2 linked regions of the Homo sapiens genome follow. The protein of the gene in region 1 interacts with the protein of each later gene in a pairwise test. Each region holds a gene or a part of one and is shown on either strand. Other genes may lie near its edges.

Region 1 (12,046 bases):
AGTATTTTATGGTTCTTAGCACTGCTAGACTGTATAAACAAGTATTTGCTTTCTCCTTCCCCTGAACTATTTTTTTTTATTTTTAGTTTTTAATTTTTTTGGCCGGGTGTAGGAATTAATGGTATTGACACTTACTTCTTGGATCCTAGACATAACGATATTTGTAAGCCAGTTGGCTAGCGTTAAAACTAATATTCCAGTTACTTAGGGCCTTGTTGCTCCAAGTTCATTTCACCTACCACCAGCATCAGCATCCCTGGGAGCTTGTTAGAATTACACTTCATGACTCTCACCCCAGAGCTGCTGAATCAGAATCTTCCTCAAGAAGTGTACCTTAAAGTTCAAGGAACATTGATTCAGGGCATGGGCTAAAGATACAGCCCTTTCTTTCTTTCTTTTTTTTTTTAGATGGAGTCTCGCTCTGTTGCCCAGGTTGGAGTGCAGTGGCGCGATCTTGGCTCACTGCCATCTCCGCCCCCCGGGTTCAAGCAATTCTCCTGCCTCAGCGTTCCCAGTAGCTGGGATTACAGGCGCGCGCCACCACCCCCGGCTAATTTTTGTATTTTTAGTAGAGACAGGGTTCGCCATGTTGGCCGGGTTGTTCTCGAACTCCTGACCTCAGGTGATCCACCCGCCTTGGCCTCCAAAGTCCTGGGATCACAGGCCTGAGACATCACGCCCGGCCTGGCCCATTCTTTGTTCAACCCGTGCTTCTTAACTAGATTCACAGTGTATTATCAATTTATTGCATGTTCTAAATGCAATGGATATTTGACAGGTTTTTTTCTGTGCTTTTAGTTCATTGACTTGATGTTAGGGCGTCAATTTAGCTTTCCAAAAAGTTGAAAAGAGATTTTGTCATCCCAATATACTTATATGTAATTTCTGTTATAACATCTGAAATGTAGGGTTTTCTCTGTAAGTCTTAGCATCCAATTTACCACTGGTTTGCGTTTTTTTTTTAAAAGTTGTTTACTGTGCTTCTTGCTTTCTCATATCTTGTATGCATATTTGTACTTTTAATTTGTTAAAAGTTGAACTCAAAAGTTTGCATGTGGACAGCAGTTCAATACTGACTTGGAAAACCTTGGGCCTTGGTTTACCAAAGCTTTTTGTGGCACCTTGCTTTCTTCTGTCTTCCCATTTTATTTTACTTCTTTTATTTTTATTTTTTGAGACAGGGTATAACCCTGTTGCCCAGGCTGAAGTGCAGTGGTGGGATCATAGCTCACTGTAACCTCCAACTCTTGGGCTCAAGCGATCCTTCTGCCTTGGTCTGTCAAAGTGCAGGAAAGCAGGCATGAGCGACTGCACCCAGCTGCCTTCTGTCTTTCTTTAATGAGAAGACTAAATCAAGAGTTCTCAGCCTTGGCTGCACGTAACAATCACCTGGGAGCTTTAAAAACAGACTCCAGCCCTGTATCTGCAGAGATTGAGACCCTCTGGATGAAATTAAAGAGCCAGTAAGGAGTATGAGAAAACAGAAACAACTTTTACGTTTTATGTTGCTATGTTAGATTTTCTCTCCCTTATGGTGTTACTTAAAATAATCGGGATTTTGAAAACCATGAAAAGATCTGGATTAAGAATGTAAGGAACCAGCTTCCCAGTAACTGGTCAACTTGCCAATTATTTGCTCTGTGTCCTAAGAAAGTTGTCCAGCCTTTCTGCTTCTCCTCCCTCCATCTATTAATTGGGAAAAGAAAATAAAGCCACTGTTGTTTTTTATTTAGTTTCATGTGGTGTTGCCAATTGTAGTGAATGTTTATATTCTGTGAGTGTGAGAAAGAAAAGTATTTTACAAGTACAATATTCATTGCTTCTAGTATTAACATACCTCATATTGTGTGTGGCAGTAGAACATGATGGGTTAGGAAATTAACTCTAGAGCTAGACTCCCTGGGTTCAAATTCTAGCTCCTCTACTAATCAGCTTTGTGACCTTGATCAGATAACTTATCCCTTCACTACCTCAGTTTCCTCATCTGTAAGATAGGGTTGATGTGAACGTTAGATAAATTCATACAAGAAAAATGCTTGTCATAGTGCCCGGCACATAGTCACAGCCATGTAAATATTAATTAACTATTGTTAAATTTTATGATAATTAAATTTCTGGGCTTTAAGGTTTTGTTTATGCATGCAAATCACCAGGGGAAAGGTATTACAGTTCTGTGACTTTTCGGGATATGAACTTGTTTAGAAAAGAGGGTGATATAAACACAATATACCAGGCCTGGAAGAGGCCTTTTTTTTTTTTTCTGTAAGTACTTTTAAACAGCTTTATTGAGGTATAACTGTTATACAGTTAATGCACATATTAAAGTGTACAATTTGGTATGTTTATGCCAGTGAAACCATCACCTCATCAAGATAATGAAGGTATCCATCACCCCTAAAAGTTTCCTCTTGCCGCATTGTCATCCCTCCAGCCACTCCTCTTCCAGGAAACCTCTGATCTATCGCTGTAGATAAGTTTGCATTGCATTTCCTAGGTGTGTGTGTTTTTTTTTTTTTTTTTTTTTTTGAGATGAAGTCTCCCTCTGTCACCTGGACTAGAGAGCAATGGTGCGATCTTGGCTCACTGCAACCTCCGCCTCCTGAGTTCAAGCAATTCTCCTGCCTCAGCCTTCCAAGTAGCTGGGATTACAGGCTTCCTTCACCATGCCCAGCTAATTTTTCTTTGTATTTTTAGTAGAGATGGAGTTTCACCATGTTGATCAGGCTACCTGATCAAATGATCTGCCTACCTTGGCATCCCAAAGTGCTGGGATTACAGGAGTGAGCCACCATGCCCGGCCACATTTCCTAGGTTTTTATCTAACTGCAGTCTTGGAGTATGTGCTTTTTGGGGGGTACGGGTTAGTCTGGCTTCTTTCATCATCATCATAATCATTTTTTTTTTTTAATTTTTATTTTGTTTTAGAGAGGATCTTGCTGTGTTATACAGGCTGCTCTTGAATTCCTGGTCTCAAGCAATCCTGCCTCAGCCTCCCAAAGCACTGGTATTATAGGCATGAGCCACACACGCCTGGCCATCATAATTATTTTGAGAACCGTCTTTGTTGTTGGGAGTTTTGATAGTTTATTCCTTTTTAATTACTCAGCGGTATTCCATTGTGTAGATATATAATAATTTGTTTACATATTCACCAATTGATGGACATTTGGTTTGTTCTTATTTTTACAATCTCATTCTCACATTGCTTTGTTCTTCTCTAGCTTATTTTAATTAAAAACGTTTTTTTCTTTTTTCATTTTTTTGAGACTGGGTCCCACTCTCAGGCTGGAGTGCAGTGGTATGATCTCAGCTCGCTGCAGCCTCCACCTCCTGGGTTCAGGTGATTCTCGTGCCTCAGCCTCCCGAGTAGCTGGGACTACAGGTGCGCACCACTGTGCCTGGCTAATTTTTTGTATCTTTAGTAGAGTTGGGTTTTTACCATGTTACCCAGACCTGTCTCAAACTCCTGGACTCAGGCAGTCCTCCCACCTTGGCCTCTCAAAGTGCTGGGATTACAAGTGTGAGCCACGGGGGCTGGCCTAACAATTTTTTTAGAAGTTTAATTATTTGGTAATGAAGCCTTCTGTATACAGTGAAACCAAGAGGTGATAGTCATAAAGCATGTTTGTATTAAAACTTCACCTTTGCTGTTATGTAGTTTATGAATTAATGTTTTGTGAATGAAACATGGCTTTTTAAAAATGCAAAATGTGTGCATTGACTTTTAAGTGGATTGTTAGTTCTTGACATGTACATGTCTAATCACTTTAAGCTGTATTAAACCTCAAGTCTACTTTTTAGAGATTGAGGACAATAATTCATGCACATGAAGAAACCTATTTATTAGGTAGCAAAGTAGAGATCTATAAAGCCAACCCTATAATTTCATAAAACTCCCCTTTGTCAGGGAGATGGGGAGTACCACTTATATTTTGAGTTGATGTAAGTATATTTCTAAAGTCTTTTTGCTTCTATTATGTAAAAGCGGTTACTTGTGTTTATTTTAGTATTGACGTTTTGTGCTTGAATAAATCAGAGGTGGTTTAAAATTGGATTTGACTCATATTAATTATGGGATAATATATAGAATATGGCTATTACAATATCGTGGACATAGAAATTCATTTGTGTCACTTTTGATTTATCTTCTAGTTAGAAAAGATTGCATTTTTTTTTTATTTTTTGCATTTAAAAATTATTCCAGACCCAGTACGGTGGCTCACGCCTGTTATTCCAACACTTTGGGAGGCCGAGGCTGGCGGATCACTTGAGATCAGGAGTTTGAGACCAGCCTTGCCAACATGGTGAAACCCTGTCTCTACTAAAAATACAAAAATTAGCTGGGCATGGTGGTGCACACCTGTAATCCTAGCTACTTGGGAGGCTGAGGTGGGAGAGTTGCTTGAACCCACGAGGCAGAGGTTGCAGTGAGCCAAGATAGTGCAACTGCGCTTTAGCCTGGGTGACACAGTGAGACTCTGTCTCAAAAAAAACCTAGAAACTAAAAAATAAATAAATAAATATTATTTTTAATTTATGTAAAATAAAATTATTCTTGGGTATGTAGTTTTCAGAGTTTTAATCAGTGCATTGAGTGTTTTGTAACCACTATCGAAATCAGCACATGGAACAGTTCCATCAGCTCCTTCCTCCCCAACTTCCCTTCTGCCACCCCTTTGTAGTACTCCTTACCCCTTCACCTTTGGCAACCAGTGATCTGTTCTCCATCATAACAGTTTTTGCTTTGAAATGATTAGATTTTAAAACTATTTTATTAATGATTATCAGAACTTTTTTTTTCTATGTAAAGGTGACTGGAAAACATTAGTTATCAGAGTTCTTGGGTTACAAAGTGGATTGATCATGTGCTGTTTGCTTGTGCTCTTGTTGTTGGAATGATTCCGTTTAAGACACTGAGCATCCACTGTGTATCAGGCACTAGGCCCCATAATTACATATCTGATCTCATGTAATCCTTACAGGAGCCATGAAATAGAAACTGTTGTTATTATCCCATTTCAGAGGTAAGAAAACCAGAGACTTAAAGGAGTTGAATAGCCTGTCTCAGGTCATACGAAGAGTCAGAATTTGAAGGGATGTGTTTTACAAGAACCTAAGGACATGCATCAGGTGTGGGTGCCTATGTCTGTTTCTGACTAGGTATTAAATAAAAACTAGATTCAGGCCGGACATGGTGGGGTCACACCTGTAATCCCAGCACTTTGAGAGTCTGAGGCGAGTGGAGTGCTTGAGCTCAGGACTTAGAAAACAGCCTGGGCAATATGGCGAAACCTCATCTCTACAAAAAATACAAAAATTAGCTGGGCATGGTGGCTTACACCTGTAGTCCCAGCTACTCGGAAGGCTGAGGCAGGAGGATCACTTGAACCTGGGGAGGTTGAGGTTTCAGTGAGCCGTGATCACGCCACTGCACTGCAGCCCGGGCAACAGACCGAGACCCTGTCTCTAAACAACAACAACAACGAAAACCTACTAAATTTTGCCTATTAGTAAAGCATCCCATGCAGTGGCTGGTGGGGATTTTCTGTGGGCACAGCAGGAAGGGGAGGCTCAGATCATGGGTCAACTGACTAGGTTGAGAGTATAGAGTAACTAAAAGGTAGCACTGTTCCATGGAATTATTCTTGGTAGAGTATCAATGTTTGACTTACATTTAGTGACAAAGGATTTTTAAAAGTTCTAATTTTTTTGTTACTTGCATTATCCTCTTTCCAGTGTTGAATCTGACGTGTTTGTTTTTGTTTTTTTTTTTATAAGTAAACTTTGGCATTCAGAATTACCATCTGAATAATAGCAAAAACTAATTCTTTTTTACACTGAAGTTGCCTTTCAGCCTTTATCTGAGTGGTCACCAGTGAGGCCTTTGCTCATTTGTCATTTTTCCTTGGTCTTTTGTTAAGTTTGTGATTCATTCCTTGATATTGGTTGTTTTGGTGGTAAGATTGGTGCATGTGTTGGGAGAGGACAACAGTGAAATGATTTCTCATTCTTGAATTATAGCTGTAACTTCAGAAGTTCTAGGGCTTTGCCTTTGCTGTTTTCTGTTTCTGTTCCCATAACTAATGAAAGTTTTTTAAGATGATAGAAAGAAGCATAATAATTTCCTAGATAAAATTTGAAATCTGGAGATTAGAAACCTAAAGTTAATTTCTGGTCTATTTAATGAGAGCATTTGCTTGTGACACAGGCCAGCAACACTAGAAAGAAGACAAATGTGAATTTCAGAGTGCCTTAGATTTTCCCACAGAATAATCTAGAGGGTCATTGACTTTCTTTATTAGAGTTTATCTCTGCTTTGTATTTAAATGACAGGACAACCATGTGATATTGTTTAATCTACTTCCATTCCCTTCCCAAATTAATTTTTTAAAGCTCTTAGGATCTTTCTCACTCCACTAAAAACACACATGTAATCATATTTTTGGTAGGTCATACCCTATCAAAGTCTCCTCTTTGTTAAAGAATGCTTGTTTTCAGGCCTGAGAGAGTGGACTCAAGAATGCACAATAGAAGATGAGGCATCATTTGTAAGTTATAATATACTCTAACTTAGCATACTTATGTAAATTATATACTTTCAGATATTTGGAAAATTGATCTTTTTGGGTTGTCCTACACTTCTTAAAAACAGGCAACAAAATAAAAATGCCACTGAATTTAGACTTGAATTGCCAGCTCTGGTAGCAAAGGCTTTTTAACATTTATTCTGTAAACCTGGTCACTGAGCTTGTTGCATCCTGCTGAAAGCAACTTTGAGGGCCTAGGAAAATAATCATTGAAGATGCATTGTTGCTTTTTGTGTGCGTGTGTGCACACTTGCTTTTTAATGATCAGTAAAAAAAATTTAGAAAAGCCTCAGGATGTTCCTTGATTTAAAACTTAATTAAGATAGAAGCTAATAATATCTTTTCCATTTAAATGAATGTTAAAATGCCAGTATTTTAAAGACAAAGAAATTTATGCACCAAAAACATCATCTTTGTGGTATAAACTTCAACCACACCTCTAATCTGTTGCCCATTATTTTCAATATGAAACACTAGGATCTTCTGGGTATGTGTTTATATGAATTACAACTCTCAGCTTTGGCTGTATGATTATATATAACTGAAGTATTATTTATTTGGTGAAATAGGTCCAGAGTGCTTGACCTCTTTTTTGGAAGGCTTACTGTGGAATTTGGAATTTAGGGACAGTAAAGATACGTTGGATAAATAGGTATAAATCTAAAAAAAAACAAAAACAAAAACAAAAAACCACATTCTGATTTAGTAACATCAATGGACCCAAGTCAGCAAACTTTTAATGCATAACAGTGCCACACCCCAAATATTAAAGAGGAGATGAATGGACCCTGTCCCTGGGAATCTTATAGTCAGGGAGAGGACCAGAGTTAGTTATAATTCAGTGGGCTAAGCGTGAGAGTAGAGGTGGTTCAGGTGTGTCCCAGAGAAGGAGCAATTCACTTGGTTCATAGAAGGCTCCAAGAAACAGGTGGCATCTGAGTTGGGTCTCAGAGGATAACTCAACTCGCTTTAGGAGAGGACATTCCACAGTGCGGCATGCATGGGTGAAGGCAGGGAGAGCTGGAGCTGCATGTTCAAGGACATGTGCCAGGAGTTGGTTATGTGGTGGCATTACAGGTGTGAAGTTGCCTGTGCCATAAGATGGAGGTTTGGGCAGGGGCACTGATATTGTTCGGATTTGTGTTCCTGAGCAAATCTCATGTTGAATTGTAACCCCCAGTGTTGGAGGAGGGGCCTGGTTGAAGGTGATTGTTCATGGGGGCAGATTTCCCACTTGCTGTTCTCAGGATAGTGAGTTCTCTCAAGCTCTGGTTGTTTAAAAGTGTATAGTACCTCTCTCTTCTCTCTCTTCCTCCTGCTCCAGTCATGTAGGATGTGCCTGCCTCCTTTTGCCTTCCACCATGATTGTAAGTCTCCTGAGGCCTCCCCAGCCATGCTTCCTGTAGAGCCTGGAGAACTGCGAGCCAGTTAAACCACTTTTCTTTATAAATTACCCAGTCTCAGGTAGTTCTTTATAGCATTGCAAGAACAGACTAATACAAGCATTGACAAAAGGGCTTCTGATGCTGTGGGAAATCCCAGTGAAGAGTTTTGAATAGGGGACTTATGCTCAGATACCTCTAATGTTGGGTTTGGGGATGGGGAAGTACAAGGATAGAGATTAGAGGTACTTTAAGAGGCTGTAGTTGTAGGGGTCTGGAGCTGCTGGCATCACCATGTGTTTTAGTCTGCCTGTGCTGCCATAACAAAATACCTTAGACTGAGTAATTTATAAACAATAGGAATTTATTGCTCACAGTTCTGGAGAATGGGACGTTTAAGATCAAGGCACCAGCAGATTCACTGTCTGGTGAGGGGTTTCTTTCTTTCTTTTTTTTTGAGCTGGAGTCTCGCTCTGTCACCCAGGCTGGATTGCAGTGGCACAATCTCAGCTCACTGCAACCTCTGCCTCCCGGGTTCAAGTGATTCTCCTGCCTCAGCCTCCTGAGTAGCTGGGATTACAGGTGTGTGCCACCATGCTCAGCTAATTTTTGTATTTTTAGTAGAGGTGGGGTTTCACCATGTTGTTCACGCTGGTCTCGAACTCCTGACCTCGTGATCCGCCCGCCTCAGCCTCCCAAAGTGCTGGGATTACAGACATGAGCCACCGCGCCTGGCCTGGACTTGCTTTCTGCTTCGAAGATGATACCTTCTTGCTGTACCCTCACATAAGGTAGAGAGGCTGGGGAGCTTGTTTGAGCCTTTTTTAAAATAAGGGCACTGGTCCCATTCATGAGGATGGAGCCCTCATTATTTATCACTTTCCAAAGTCCCCACCGTTAATACTATTACACTGGGCATTAGGTTCCAACATATAAATTTGGGGGGATACCAACATGTAGACCATAGCACCATGTTGTGATTTTTCCTTCTCGTGGGAGGCGGATGGGCCCATCCATGACTGTCATCTGTTCCATCCCAGATAACAGGCTGTGTGCATGTAGTAAGGGAAGAGAACATGTGTTCCCCACAGATTCTCCGTCAATTCTTCTGTGTTTAGATATCACAACTAATTGGGTTTTGTAAAAGAATAGTGAGGGACATGCCCCTCAGCTCCCAGAGGATATACAAGTCTCATGGTTGGATGTTGCACAGTGGTTGTCAAGGCCTAAATAACAGAAGGGATGAGAAGCTCTCCTTCCACCCCCTACTGCCTTGCCAGACCTGCAGAGACTTTGTTGGGAGGCAGGGGCACCTTACTCTGGGGACCACCTCTCCCCATTTTTCTGTTGGATTGCTTTTTCTTTTTTCTTTCTTTTTTTTTTTTTTTTTTTTTGAGATGGAGTTTTGCTCTTGTTGCCCAGGCTGGAGTGCAATGGCGCGATCTTGGCTCACTGCAAACTCCACCTCCTAGGTTCAAGCAATTCTCCTGCCTCAGCCTCCCTAGTAGCTGGGATTACAGGTGTGCACCAAGACGCCTGGCTAATTTTTTTAATTTTTAGTAGAGATGGAGTTTCACCATGTTGGCCATGCTGGTCTTGAACTCCTGACCTCATGATCCGCCCGCCTCAGCCTCCCAAAGTGCTGGGATTACAGATGTGAGCCACCATGCCCAGCCGATGAGATTGCCCTTTTTTTTTTTTTTTGAGATGGAGTCTCACTCTGTCACTCAGGCTGGAGTGCAGTGGCGTGATCTCGGCTCACTGCAACCTCCGCCTCCTGAGTTCAAGCGATTCTCCCGCCTCGGCCTCCTGAGTAGCTGGGACTACAGGCACATGCCACTAAGCCCGGCTAATTTTTTGTATTTTTAGTAGAAACAGGGTTTCACCATGTTAGCCAGGCTGGTCTTGAACTCCTGACCTCAGGTGATCTGCCCTACTTGGCCTCTGAAACTGCTGGGATTACAGCCATGAGCCACTGTGCCTGGCTGAGATTGCTTTTTTTTTTTTTTTTTTTTTTTTAACTCAGCCTATTTCCTTAAAATCCATCCAAGTTGCATGTATCAATAGTTTATTCCCTCTGCCTGAGTAATATGCCAGGGTATAAAGGTACTGCAGTTTGTTTAACCATTCACACGTTGAAGGATGTCTGGGTTGTTTCCAGTTTGTGGCTGTTAAGAATAAAGTTACTATGATGGCCGGATGCGGTGGCTCATACCTGTAATCCCAGCACTTTGGGAGGCTGAGGTGGGTGGATCACAAGGTCAGGAGTTCAAGCCCAGCCTGGCCATGATGGTGAAACCCCGTCTCTATTAAAAACATAAAAATTAGCCAGGTGTGGTGGCAGGCACCTGTAATCCCAGCTACTTGGGAGGCTGAGGCAAGAGAATCACTTGAACTCGGAGGGCAGAGGTTGCAGTGAGCCGAAATTGGGCCACTGCACTACAGCCTGGGCAACAGAGTGCGACTCTGTCTCAAAAAAAAAAAAAAAAAAAAAGTTACTATGAACATTTTTGAACAAGTTTTTACGTGAGCCTAAGTTCTCATTTCTCTGGGATAAATTCTGAGGAGAGCAATTTTTGGGTTGTTTAGATTGATAAGAAACTTCCAGTCACTTTTCCTGAGTGGCTGTACCACTTTTACAGTCCCACCAGTGATATATGAGAGATCTATTTTCTCTGCACCCTCACCAGCATTTGGTGTTATTGTTTTTTATTTGTCTTTCTGGTAGATATGTAGTGATATCTCATTGTGGTTTTATTTTACATTTTCCCATGGCTAATGATGTTGAATATCTTTTCATATGCTTTTTTACCATCTGTATATCCTTCTTGGTGAGATATCTGTTTGTCATTTGCCCATTTTCTGATTGGACTGTTGCTTTTTACTATTGAATTTTGAGACTATGTATTCTAGATAGAAATCCTTTGTTAGATATGGATTGCAAATATTTTTCTCCCAGTTTTCTTAGAAAAGTTTTAATTTCAATATGGCCAAAGCTGTCATTCTTTTTCTTTATGGTTTACATTTTCTCTGTCTAGTTAAAAAACTCCTTTATGATTTTGAGTTCATAAAAATATCCTCTGAAAGGTTTTAGTTTCACACCTTTGAGTTTTTAACCCATCTGTAATTGATTTTTGAGTCTTGTATGAGATCGAGTCCAATTTAATTTTTTCTCAAATAGATATGAGCAGTTGTTTGACCACAGTTTATTGAATGAGTCATCTCTTCATTTCACACTAATTTCACAGTGCTGCTCCCAGCATGCATCAGTTTCATAAATGCATGCATTGGTTTCTGGTGTGTGGAGTCTGCCCCCTCTGCCTGTTTGTCTGCCCGTTTGCCAGTACGTTAGTTTTTTTACCTTGCATTGTAGCAGTTTTGCAAGCCCCATCTTTTGTTTTTTTCTTCCTTTTCTAGAAGTGTCTTGATCTTTTTTAGTCTTTCTCAGTTTCCCTGTTCAAGTTTGTGTTTGGAGTTGCATTAAATTAGTAGATCAGTCAGAGGATGTCTCGTATATATTTTTTTCATTTTATTCCTAGATACTTTTTATTTGTGGGATGCTAGTTTAAATGATATTTTAAGTTCTACATTTTCTACTTGTTGCAAAGAAGTTGTTTCTACTGGTTCATCATTAAGCATTTTGTTACATTTTTGTAGATGCTTTTTTTAGATTAAGAAATTCCTTTGTATTCATAGATTTCTAATGTTACCTTTTTATTTTTTTCTGCTTCTACTGAAATGTTTATGTGCCTTTTTTCTTCTTTAGTTTTTGTTTTTGTGTTTTGAGACAGGGTCTCTGTCACCCAGGCTGGAGTGCAGTGGCATAAACATGGCTCACTGCAGCCTTGAACTCCTGGGCTCAAGTGATCCTCCTGCCTCAGTTTCCCATGTAGCTGGGACCACAGGTGGGGGCTCCACACCTGGCTGATTTTTTTTTTTTTTTTTTTTTAGAGATAGGGTCTCACTTTGTTGCCTAGGCTGGTCTCGAACTCCTGGGCTCAAGCAGTCCTCCTGCCTCAGCCTCCCAAAGTCCTGAGATTACAGGTGTGAGCCACTGAACCCGGCCTCTACTTCAGT
Region 2 (12,046 bases), on another chromosome or scaffold:
GCTTCAGCTCTCCCTCGGGCTGCTGGTTGCTGACTTTGGCGCCATGGTCAATAACCCACACCTGAGTGATGTCCAGTTTCAGACGGACAGCGGGGAGGTGCTTTACGCCCACAAGTTCGTGCTTTATGCCCGATGCCCGCTCCTCATCCAGTATGTAAGTACGTGGGCTGCCGTGTGCCCTCCTTTCCTCTCTCTCCCTCTCTCCTCCTGCCTTTCTCCAACCAGGTCTTCCCATGTCTCAGGTGCCCTTTCCACCCCCCCACTCTCCCTCACTTCCTGCCCCACCATGTTCTCACCTTCTCCCTCCCAACCATCCGTTTCTGCAACACGTGGAGAAGAGATAAAGACCCACGCTTGAGGTTAGGAGTGGGTGTGAGGGGATGGCCTCACAACTGGGAAACATCAGTGTTTTCGTTCTGTTGAATGAAAATCCATTGTTTGGCCGGGCGCGGTGGCTCACGCCTGTAATTCCAGCACTTTGGGAGGCCGAGGCGGGCAGATCACAAGGTCAGGAGATCAAGACCATCCTAACACAGTGAAACCAGTCTCTACTAAAAATACAAAAAAATTAGCCGGGCATGGTGGCGGGCGCCTGTAGTCCCAGCTACTCGGGAGGCTGAGGCAGGAGAATGGCATGAACCTGGGAGGCGGAGCTTCCAATGAGCTGAGATTGCACCACTGCACTCCAGCCTGGGCGACAGAGCAAGACTCTGTCTCAAAAACAAAACAAAACAAAAAGAAAATCCATTGTTTCCCAGAATTGTTTTCTCTTTTCTCTATTTGCATAATTACAAAGGCTCATAATTGATCTCCTCAGGGATGAGTTGCTGATGAACCTGCCTTCTGACTTGAAAGCATTTGACTTGAGTGTGGGCAGGAACTCAGGGAGCTATTCTCAGTCTTTGTCAAAGTTCTGGATCCCATATGTGTCTATCAGGAGGACTCTTAACGGGGTCCTGGAATATCTAGTCCCAATACGATTTGACAAAAGAGGAGTGTTAGGCCTCACCTGTAAAATTATTGGCCAAAAATCTGCATAAACAGTGGCTAATGCTTTTCCTGGGGCATGGAGCTGCTTTTAAGACTAGGGACCAGGCACGGCGGCTCATGCCTGAGATCCCCGTACTTTGGGAGACTAAGGTGGGAGGATCGCTTGAGGCCAGGAGTTCAAGACCAGCCTGAACAACACAGTGAGAGCCCATCTCTACAAAAAAATTTAAAAATTAGCCTAGGGGCTGGGCGCAGTGGCTCACGCCAGTAATCCCAGCACTTTGGGAGGCCGAGGAGGGTGGATCACCTGAGGTCAGGAGTTCCAAGACCAGCCTGGCCAACATAGTGAAACCTTATCTCTACTGAAACTATAAAAAATTAGCCGGGCATGGTGGTGGGCGGCTGCAATCCCAGCTACTCGGGAGGCTGAGGCAGGAGAATACGCTGGAACCGAGGAGGTGGAGGTTGCAGTGAGCCGAGATCTCACCACTGCACTCCAGCCTGGGCAACAGAGAGAGATTCCAACTCAAAATAATAAAATTAATTAAAATTTAAAATTAGCCTAGGAGTTCAAGGCTGCAGTAAGCCATGATCACACCACTGTACTCTAGCCTGGGTGACAAGGGGAGACACTGTCTCTAAAAAGAAAAATAAAAAGACTAGTGACTTGCAGGACACCCCAGACCGTCTGCTTTGCTCCAAGTTACAACTCTCTGATCAGTAAACCCTCTGTGTTGCATTTCACCTGCAGGTGAACAATGAAGGCTTCTCCGCTGTAGAGGACGGGGTTCTGACCCAGCGTGTCCTGCTGGGTGACGTGAGCACCGAGGCCGCCCGCACGTTCCTGCACTATCTCTACACTGCGGACACTGGCCTTCCTCCTGGCCTTAGCTCTGAGCTGAGCTCCCTGGCCCACAGGTCTGGATTGCTCCCCAGCTTTTGAAATTAACTGACGAGGACTGGCAGGTTAACAGCTCTGGAGGGTTGTGCTGCAGAGGGCTCGGGGCTGAGGCCAAGAGAACTAACAGTCCTGTTTATACCTTTTAATCCCAAGTCCATGACCAGTGATGACCCTGTGGAACAGGGCATGTTAGGTGAAAGTCAGGCCAGAACAGACCCTTGCAGGGGTGCCAAGCACTGGATCAGGAGGACTCTATTGAGTCCCGTGGTTTTTAACCCCCTAGGTGTGATAAGAGAATGGCCCTTGGCTACAGCGCCCCCCAACACTGCTGCTCAGTGATTGTTCCACCACTAGACCTGAACAACAGCAGTCCTTTCCAGAGTCCCATAAAACAGGCATGGAGAGAATGCTTAGGCTGCATCCCAGATGCCACAGCTCTCCTGGCTTGTCCAGCCAGCATCTTAGGAGAGAGGCAGCAGCTCAGAGGGACAAGTGTTGTGCCTCTGGACAGGGCCTGGGCCGCTGATCCGAGCCTGCGTCCTCCCTCCGCTGCTTTCTTAGGAAAGGAACAGCTCAGCCTCTGGAGTTGGAAATATACTGACGGGCCACAGAGCCTTCAAGCAGGTGGCTGGCTGGCTTGCCCGTTGGCCTGGGCTGACTCAAGGACTTGGTGTGCTGTGGATTGTGTCTGATGCCATGTCTTTTCATTTATTTTTTATTTTTTGGAGAGACGGAGTGTCGCTGTGTTGCCCAGGCTGTTCTTGAACTCCTGACCTCAAGCAATCCTCCTGCCTCCGCCTCCCAAAGTGCTGGGATTATGGGCATGAGCCACCATGCATGACCTTTTTTATCCTTTTAGAGACAGAGTCTCTTGCTGTTGCCCAGGCTGGATGGCAGTGGCATGATCACAGCTCACTGTAGCCTTGAACTCCTAGGCTAATTTTTACATTTTTTTGTAGAGATGGAGACTTTCTATGTTGTCCAGGCTGATCTCAAACTCCCGGCCTTGAGTGATCCTCGGCTTCCCAAAGTGCTGGAATTTCAGGCATGAGCCACAATGCCTGGCTCTGACACCATATCTTAAGAGCCTCTGAGGCAGCACAGACTCCCCAGTTTTGTAGCTCTGCCAATCCCTGTTACCTTACATTCAGTCCGACACACCCCTTTATGTCTGCAGCTATAGTTAGGAAGCCCTGCTTTAAGTGTTGTCAGTCCCCGGTTTCTGGAACTAAGTGGCCTGGGTGTTTCTGGCAAGGAGTGTGGACACCGTCTTCAAAGGGAAGCAGGGCCTGGGTCATGGTCATTCCTCCTGGTGAAGACTCTGCTCTGGTCCGCCACCCCACCGGGGCACCCAGAGCCCATCTCCACGCAGAGGGGCGATGACTGTCGATGTTTCGTGTTGCAGGTTTGGCGTGAGTGAGCTCGTTCACCTGTGCGAACAGGTGCCTATTGCCACTGACTCAGAGGGCAAACCATGGGAGGAGAAGGAAGCAGAGAATTGCGAAAGCAGGGCCGAGAATTTCCAGGAACTCTTGAGGTCAATGTGGGCAGATGAAGAGGAGGAAGCGGAGACTTTGTTGAAATCCAAGGACCACGAAGAAGATCAAGAAAACGTGAATGAAGCAGAAATGGAAGAAATTTATGAATTTGCAGCTACTCAGCGAAAGCTTCTCCAGGAAGAAAGGGCAGCGGGTGCCGGCGAGGACGCTGACTGGCTGGAGGGTGGCAGTCCGGTTTCTGGGCAACTCCTAGCAGGTGTCCAGGTGCAGAAACAGTGGGACAAGGTGGAGGAGATGGAGCCGTTGGAGCCAGGAAGAGATGAGGCCGCCACCACCTGGGAGAAGATGGGACAGTGCGCTCTCCCGCCACCCCAGGGCCAGCACTCAGGGGCACGGGGAGCAGAGGCCCCTGAGCAGGAGGCGCCAGAGGAGGCGCTTGGCCATTCCAGCTGCTCCAGCCCTTCCAGGGACTGCCAGGCAGAGAGAAAAGAAGGCTCTCTTCCGCACTCAGATGATGCCGGGGATTACGAACAGCTCTTCTCATCAACTCAGGGAGAGATCTCAGAGCCGTCCCAAATAACAAGTGAGCCCGAGGAACAAAGTGGCGCTGTCAGGGAAAGGGGGCTGGAGGTTTCTCATCGCCTGGCTCCCTGGCAGGCATCTCCACCGCACCCGTGCCGCTTCCTATTGGGGCCTCCCCAGGGCGGGAGTCCCCGCGGGTCTCATCACACAAGTGGGTCGTCCCTGTCAACACCCCGGTCCCGTGGCGGAACTTCCCAGGTGGGCTCCCCAACCTTGCTGTCTCCAGCTGTGCCATCAAAGCAGAAAAGGGACAGGAGCATCCTCACGCTGTCTAAAGAGCCAGGGCACCAGAAAGGCAAAGAGCGTCGGTCCGTGCTGGAGTGCAGAAATAAGGGGGTCCTGATGTTCCCAGAAAAATCTCCGTCTATTGACCTAACCCAGTCAAATCCTGACCATTCGAGCTCCAGATCTCAGAAATCTTCATCCAAACTGAACGAAGAAGATGAGGTCATCCTCTTACTGGACTCGGATGAGGAGCTGGAGCTAGAACAAACCAAAATGAAGTCCATTTCTAGTGATCCTCTGGAAGAAAAGAAAGCTCTAGAAATTAGCCCTAGGTCCTGTGAGCTGTTTTCCATCATTGATGTTGATGCAGATCAGGAACCTTCCCAGAGCCCACCAAGAAGCGAAGCTGTGCTGCAGCAGGAGGATGAGGGGGCGCTGCCGGAGAATCGGGGCTCTTTGGGCAGGAGAGGGGCTCCCTGGCTGTTCTGTGACCGTGAGAGCAGCCCCAGCGAGGCCAGCACCACAGACACCTCGTGGCTGGTGCCCGCCACCCCGCTGGCCAGCAGAAGCCGTGACTGTTCTTCCCAGACCCAAATCAGCAGCCTCAGGAGCGGGCTGGCCGTGCAGGCGGTGACTCAGCACACGCCCAGGGCCTCAGTAGGAAACAGGGAAGGGAACGAAGTCGCACAGAAGTTTTCTGTCATCAGGCCCCAGACACCACCGCCCCAGACACCGTCCTCATGCCTCACTCCCGTCTCTCCAGGAACTTCTGACGGCAGAAGGCAAGGCCACAGAAGCCCTTCCCGTCCCCACCCCGGGGGCCACCCGCACTCCTCTCCGCTGGCTCCACATCCCATCTCAGGGGACCGCGCCCACTTCAGCAGGCGGTTCCTGAAACACTCGCCGCCTGGGCCAAGCTTCCTGAACCAGACCCCAGCGGGTGAAGTGGTGGAAGTCGGAGACAGTGACGATGAGCAGGAGGTGGCCTCCCATCAGGCCAACAGAAGCCCCCCACTGGACAGTGACCCCCCAATTCCAATTGACGACTGCTGCTGGCACATGGAGCCCCTCTCGCCAATTCCCATTGACCACTGGAACCTGGAGCGGACCGGCCCCCTGAGCACCAGCAGCCCCAGCCGCAGGATGAACGAGGCCGCCGACAGCCGTGACTGTCGCTCCCCGGGACTCCTGGACACCACCCCCATCCGAGGAAGCTGCACTACCCAGAGGAAATTGCAAGAGAAGTCCTCGGGCGCGGGCTCCCTGGGGAATAGCAGGCCGAGCTTTCTGAATTCGGCTCTGTGGGACGTTTGGGACGGGGAAGAGCAGAGGCCTCCAGAGACCCCTCCTCCGGCCCAGATGCCAAGCGCTGGTGGAGCTCAGAAGCCCGAAGGGTTAGAGACACCCAGTGAGTAGCCAGGAGAGCTGGGGAAGGGGACTGTCTTTGTTACTATTTTACACTAAGAGGGTGGGAAGATCAGTCATGAGACCCAGGGGCTGCCCTCTGAATGCCTGCTGACCTGAGGCATGACACTTCCGCTGCCTTCCAGACTCCCCTCCACAGTGGAGGAGAGCCGGGCTGGTTCTCATGCTACACTTCTCAGCCAGTAAGTCAGTGTTTCCCAAACTTGCCTGGCTCCAGTGCTCACCTGGGCATGTGTTAAAAATCCACATCTGTGGACCCTTCTCCAGAACACGGAGCCGGCACCTCCAAAGGCCACAACTCATTCAGCAAGTATCGGCATGCCTTAAGATTGGACCAGGGTGGTTCTCCAGAATGTTAACCGTAGATTGACTGCAGGACCCAGCAATTCCACTTTTACCTGTATATCCAAAAGAATTAAAAACAGGGACTCAGACATGCATGTTCATAGAAGCGCTGTTCACAATCGCCAAAAGCTGGAAGCAACCCAAATGCCCGTCAGGAGATGAACAGGGAAACCAAACGTGGTCCATCTAGACCACTAGAAAATGGAATAGTGTTCAGCCACAAAGAGGAGTGAGGCACTGCCACACGCTACCGCGTGGACGACCCAGAAAACATGCTGCCGGGTGAGAGAAGCCAGACATAGAAGGTCATGTACTGTCTGCACTCATGGATATGAAATGTCTAGAATAGGCAAATCCAGAGAAAATGCAGGTTAGTGGTTGGCCTGGGTTGGAGGGAGGGGGAATGGGGAGTGACTGCTTATGGGATACAGGGTGTCCTTTTGGGGTGGTGAAAATGTTTTGCAAATAGATAGAGGTGATGGTTGTACAACATTGTGAATACTTAATGCCACTGAATTATTCCCTTTACGATTTTTTTATGTGAATTTCACCTCAATTAAAAAAAGAATCAGGTGGGACAAGTGTGAGAGGCTGTTAGGCCTGTTCTTCCTGGTCCTCCCAGGTGCAGGGATGCCACCTCCCTGCTCATTTCAGTCCCCGGGGAGAGTCAGAGCCCCAGGTGTCGGCCCCCTCGGTGCTGCTGCTCCCATCCAGGCACCTCCGGGGAGGGCAAGGACAGGCCGGGCTGGGCTGAGCATGACTGGGAGAAAGGCCAGGCTGTGAGTGAGCACCTGCCTGCGGCCTGGGGGCCCATTTCCTCCCAAAATCCAGATGAATGAGGCCACTGATAGTGTCCTCGGCCCTCAGGGGCTTCAGAAACACCTGGAGAGCTTCTTATAGCACGCCCGTGGCCCAGCCTGCCCCAGAGCCTTGCTTCGGGAGGGTGACTAAGAATTTGCATTTCTAACCAGTTCCCAGGCAGTGCTGTGAGAACAGCTGCAGGAGGCTGCACAGCAGATCTGAGGTGGGCTTCAGGACGACGCTGCGGCCACAGGAAGAATCGTGCTTTTCTCAGGAGACAGAGCCTGCCGCTTTCATCGGGGGCTCAAAGGGCTCCATGGTCATAAAAGGCAGAAGAACCAAAGTCTGACTGTTTCCAATGTGTCACCAGGCTGGAGTGCAGTGGGGCTATCTCGGCTCACTGCAACCTCCACCTCTCGGGTTCAAGGGATTCTCCTGCCTCAGCCTCCCGAGTAGCTGGGATTACAGGCACCCAGCACCACGCCCAGCTAATTTTTGTATTTTTAGTAGAGTCGGGTTTCACCATGTTGATCAGGCTGGTCTTGAGCTGCTGACCTCAGGTGATCCGCCCACCTCGGCCTCCCAAAGTGCTGGGATTACAGGCGTGAGCCACCTCGCCCAGCCTATTATTTTTTAAAGTAACAGCTTTATTTAGATATAATTCACATACCATAATATCCACCCTTTTAAAATGGACAGTTCAGTGCTTCTCAGTACATTCACAGTGTTGTACAATTGTCCCCACTCTCTAATTCTAGAACATTTTCATCATCTCAAAAATCCTGTACCCATGAGCAGTCTCTCACCTTCCCCTTCCCCCAGCCCTGGCAACCAAGAACCTTTCTGTCTCTATGGATTTGCCTGTCCTGGACATTTCATATAAACAGAGCCATATATAACTAATATGTGGCCTTTTGTGTCTGTGTCTGGCTTCTTTCAGTTAGCATACAGTTTTCAAGATTCATACATGTTGTAGCATGGATCAGTATTTTATTCCTTTTTATTCTTTTTTTTTTTTTTTGAGACGGAGCCTCTCTCTGTTGCCCAGGCTAGAGTGCAGTGGCACGATCTCGGCTCACTGCAACCTCCACCTCCTGGGTCCAAGCGATTCTCCCGCCTCAGCCTCCCGAGTAGCTGGGATTACAAGCGCCCATCGCCATGCCATGCCCGGCTAATTTTTTTGTATTTTTAGTACAGATGGGGTTTCACCATGTTGGCCAAGCTGGTCTCGAACTCCTAACCTCAAGTGATCCACCCACTTTGGTCTCCCACAGTGCTGGGATTACAAGCCTGAGCCACTGTGCCTGGCCTGTTTTTGAGTCAGGGGTCTTGCTCTGTCACCCAGGCTGAAGTGCAGTGGCGCAATTACAGCTCATTGTAGCCTCGACCTCCCAGGCTCAAGTGATCCTCCCACCTCAACCTCCTGAGTAGCTGGGACTACAGGCAGCTGCCACCATGCCCAGCTAATTTTTTTTTTTTAGTAGAGACTGGGTCTTGCTATGTTGCCCTGGCTTTGGGCATACATTCCTTTGTATGTCTAATACCCCACTGATGGTATGCCACATTTTGCTTATCCATTCATCTACTAGTGGACACACGGGTTGTTTTTAATTTGTGGTTATTAATAATGCCACTTAGGAATATTGATGTGCAAGTTTTCGTGTAGACATGTTTTCCTTCTTCTTGGTTCTGTACTTAGGAGTGGAATTGCTGGGTCATATGGCAACTGTGTTTAGCATTGTGAGGAACTGCGAGACTGTTTTCCAAAGTGACTGCACCATTTTAAATCTCCACCAACACTTGTTATTCTGTTTTTGTTGTTGTTGTTATTGTTTTGAGACAAGGTCTTGCTCTGTCGCCCAGGCTGGAGTGCAGTGGCGTGTTCATGGCTTGCTGCAGCCTCAACCTTCCTGGCTCAGGTGATCCTCCCACCTCAGCCTCCCGAGTAGCTGGAACCAGCCACAAACAGCTGCCCACATTGGTGACTTGGGCCACCACACCCTGCTAACTTTTTTTGTATTTTTTTTTTTTTTTTTTTGTAGAGATAGGGTTCTGCCATTTTGCCCAAACCCTCTGTGTTTTTTGTTATGGCCATCCTAGTGGGCGTGCAGTGGTATCTCACTGTGGTTTTGACTTGCATTTCCCTGATGACTAATGATGTCGGGCACCTTTTCATGTGCTTATTGGCCATTTGTAGATCTTCTCTGGAGAAATGTCTGTTCACATCCTTTGCCCTTTTTTTTTTTTTTTTTTGAGACAGAGTCTTGCTCTGTCGCCCAGGCTGGAGTGCAGTGGTGTGATCTCGGCTCACTGCAAGCTCCGCCTCCCAGGTTCACGCCATTCTCCTGCCTCAGCCTCCCAAGCAGCTGGGACTACAGGCGCCCGCCACCACGCCCAGCTAATTTTTTGTATTTTTAATAGAGACGGGGTTTCACCGTGTTAGCCAGGATGGTCTCGATCTCCTGACCTCGTGATCCGCCCACCTCGGCCTCCCAAAGTGCTGGGATTACAGGCGTGAGCCACCGCGCCCGGCCCCTTTGCCCATTTTTTAACTGGGTTTTTTTAAATTGATGAATTATTTTTAAAAAGCAAAACTGATGTCTAAGCCTGTTTGAAGAGTATCAGTGTGGCCCATTGTCTCAAGTTGTCACTGTGGGTCAGATATTTTTAAGTTTACATGCATAAGTTTTAGTCACGTGCCGGGCTGTTGGGTTCAGTGGCCCCAGGAGCTCTGTTCACCCGGCACCCGTGTTATACAAGGTGTGGTCCTCAGTGCGTGTCACCGATGCTATCATTGGGAAGCCCCTGCTCCAGACAGGGAAGGGGTGACCACTGTTGCTTTCATGGAGCAAAACGATGCTTGGGTTATCTTCAAGTGCATTATTCCTCTTGGTCACGCTACTGGGATCAGATGTGGGAAATCCGTGTCCCTCATGCTAAAACGTGTGCTTCTTTTGTTTTACCCAGAAGGTGCTAATCGGAAGAAGAACTTGCCCCCCAAAGTGCCCATAACGCCGATGCCACAGTATTCCATTATGGAGACGCCGGTGCTGAAGAAGGAACTGGATAGGTTGGCGGTCTTCAAAGCTTGTTGCCCACAGTGGTCTTTTCCCTCCCATAAGTAACTGGGTTTCACACACCTGGGGGCGGAAGGGCCCCCCGTGTGGTCTCTGGGTCTGGTGGATGCAGCTGGCCTGGGCTTGGGAAGAAAGGTCTGCAGTCAGCTCCTTAGGGAGCATGTGTGACTGCTGGGTGCCGGGGTGAGCCTCCCAGTTCTCTCTGCGTACCATTCCCCAGGGAGGCAACACACAGGATTCGTGCATGTCACCCCTGGGCAGCAGGTCCCCATATTCCATGTAGATGGAAATGGCCCCCTAGCCAGAGCAGTCTGAGTGAGGAGGTCTGATTTTTTTTTTGAAAGACAGAGTCTTGCTCTGTCGCCCAGGCTGGAGTGCAGTGGCGCAGTCCCGGCTCACTGCAACCTCCACCTCCCGGGTTCAAGCGATTCTCCTGACTCAGCCTCCCGAGTAGCTGGGACTACAGGCACACGCCACCACACCAGGCTAATTGTTGTATTTTTAGTAGAGACGGGGTTTCACCATGTTGGCCAGGCTGGTCTCGAACTCCTGACCACGTGATCCACCCGCCTCGGCTTCCCAAAATGCTGGGATTACAGGCGTGAGCCACTGTGCCCGGCGGAGGCCTGATTTTTTTTAAAAGAACATTTAACTCTCACATCCACATGACACTGCTCTTCCACTCGGGCACCCGGGGAAGCTGCTGCTGCCACCATCCCTCAGAACTGGGAGCAGCATATCTTTTGTTTATTTTTTATTTTTGGAGACAGGATCTCACTCTGTTGCCCAGGCTGGAGTAGAGTGATGTGATCTTGGCTCACTGTAGCCTCAGCCTCCCGGGCTTAAGCGATCCTACCTCATCCTCCCTAGTAGCTGGGACTACAGGTGACACCACCACGCCTGGCTAATTTTTGTATTTTTTGTAGAGGCGGGGTCTTGCTATGTTGCCCAGGCTGGCCTTGAACTCCTGAGCTCAAACTGTCCTCCTGCCTCAGCCTCCCAAAGTGCTGGGATTGTAGGCGTGAGCCATTGTGCCTGGCTGGCAATGTTTCTTTTGGAATATTCAGAGTAAGCTTAGTTGGCGCCTAGAATAGACACTAACCTCTGATGCTCACAGAAGTCAGGCATCTATGGTTTGTCACACAAGCCATTCGCTGAATGCATTGGGTATCACTCTTTGCTAAGATAGGGAACGTGGAGTGTGGACCAGCTGTGTGGGTGGGTCCTGAGATCCACCTGTTCCTCCGTCAGGTTTGGAGTCCGCCCTCTGCCTAAACGCCAGATGGTTCTGAAGCTGAAGGAGATATTCCAGTACACTCACCAGACCCTGGACTCAGACTCCGAGGACGAGAGCCAGTCCTCACAGCCGCTGTTGCAGGCGCCTCACTGCCAGACCCTCGCCTCCCAGACCTACAAGCCTTCAAGGGCAGGGGTCCATGCCCAGCAGGAGGCCACCACAGGACCTGGGGCCCATAGGCCCAAGGGACCTGCTAAGACCAAGGGCCCCCGACATCAAAGGAAGCATCATGAAAGCATCACACCCCCAAGCAGGTCGCCCACCAAGGAGGCACCTCCAGGCCTCAATGATGACGCCCAGATCCCAGCCTCTCAAGAATCCGTGGCCACCTCTGTGGATGGCAGTGACAGCTCCTTGAGCTCACAGAGGTAACCGGATGGATGCGATGGGGTCAGTGGCCTCATGTATCCTCTGGCCCGTGGGCGTGAGGGTTGGCACGAGTGAGACCTAATGGCCAATCTTCAAAAACCCCCGTCACCTTCTGGGTTTGACCTGTGGGAAAACCAGGTGGGTTTAGGGGGCTGGTTCCCTGACCCCAGCCCTGCGCAGGCCTCCTGGTTCCTGCCCCACATGCTAGACATTTCTGGCTGGGGCAGGATCCCGCTGGCGTAGCCTGCAGGGATCTCTCAGGCCCGTCCTGCCTTGCTGGGGATCGTGCCACAGGCCAGGCTCCATGGGACCCGTAGACACCTTCCTTCCTTTAAAGAGGCTCATGGTCTCAGGGGCTGGAGAGAAAGGGGTTGCACAACGTCCTGGTCTGGCTCTTTTCAGTTCTTCCTCCTGTGAGTTTGGAGCGGCATTTGAGTCTGCAGGTGAAGAGGAGGGCGAGGGGGAGGTCAGTGCCTCGCAGGCAGCCGTGCAGGCGGCGGACACAGACGAGGCGCTGAGGTGCTACATCCGCTCC

The links.
Region 2: the proteins of SLX4IP (region 1) and SLX4 interact in binary tests that used the Homo sapiens proteins (3 or more experiments, as listed by UniProt).

Annotation. Positions count from the first base shown.
Region 1 is NC_000020.11:10,435,970-10,448,015, forward strand, and holds part of SLX4IP (protein SLX4IP), read left to right. Parts: intron 1-12,046.
Region 2 is NC_000016.10:3,582,561-3,594,606, reverse strand, and holds part of SLX4 (structure-specific endonuclease subunit SLX4), read left to right. Parts: intron 1-7; coding exon 8-154; intron 155-1,741; coding exon 1,742-1,908; intron 1,909-3,296; coding exon 3,297-5,605; exon of another isoform or gene 5,606-6,337; intron 6,338-6,938; exon of another isoform or gene 6,939-7,671; intron 7,672-9,735; coding exon 9,736-9,838; intron 9,839-11,096; coding exon 11,097-11,510; intron 11,511-11,913; coding exon 11,914-12,046. UniProt on the Homo sapiens protein: Regulatory subunit that interacts with and increases the activity of different structure-specific endonucleases.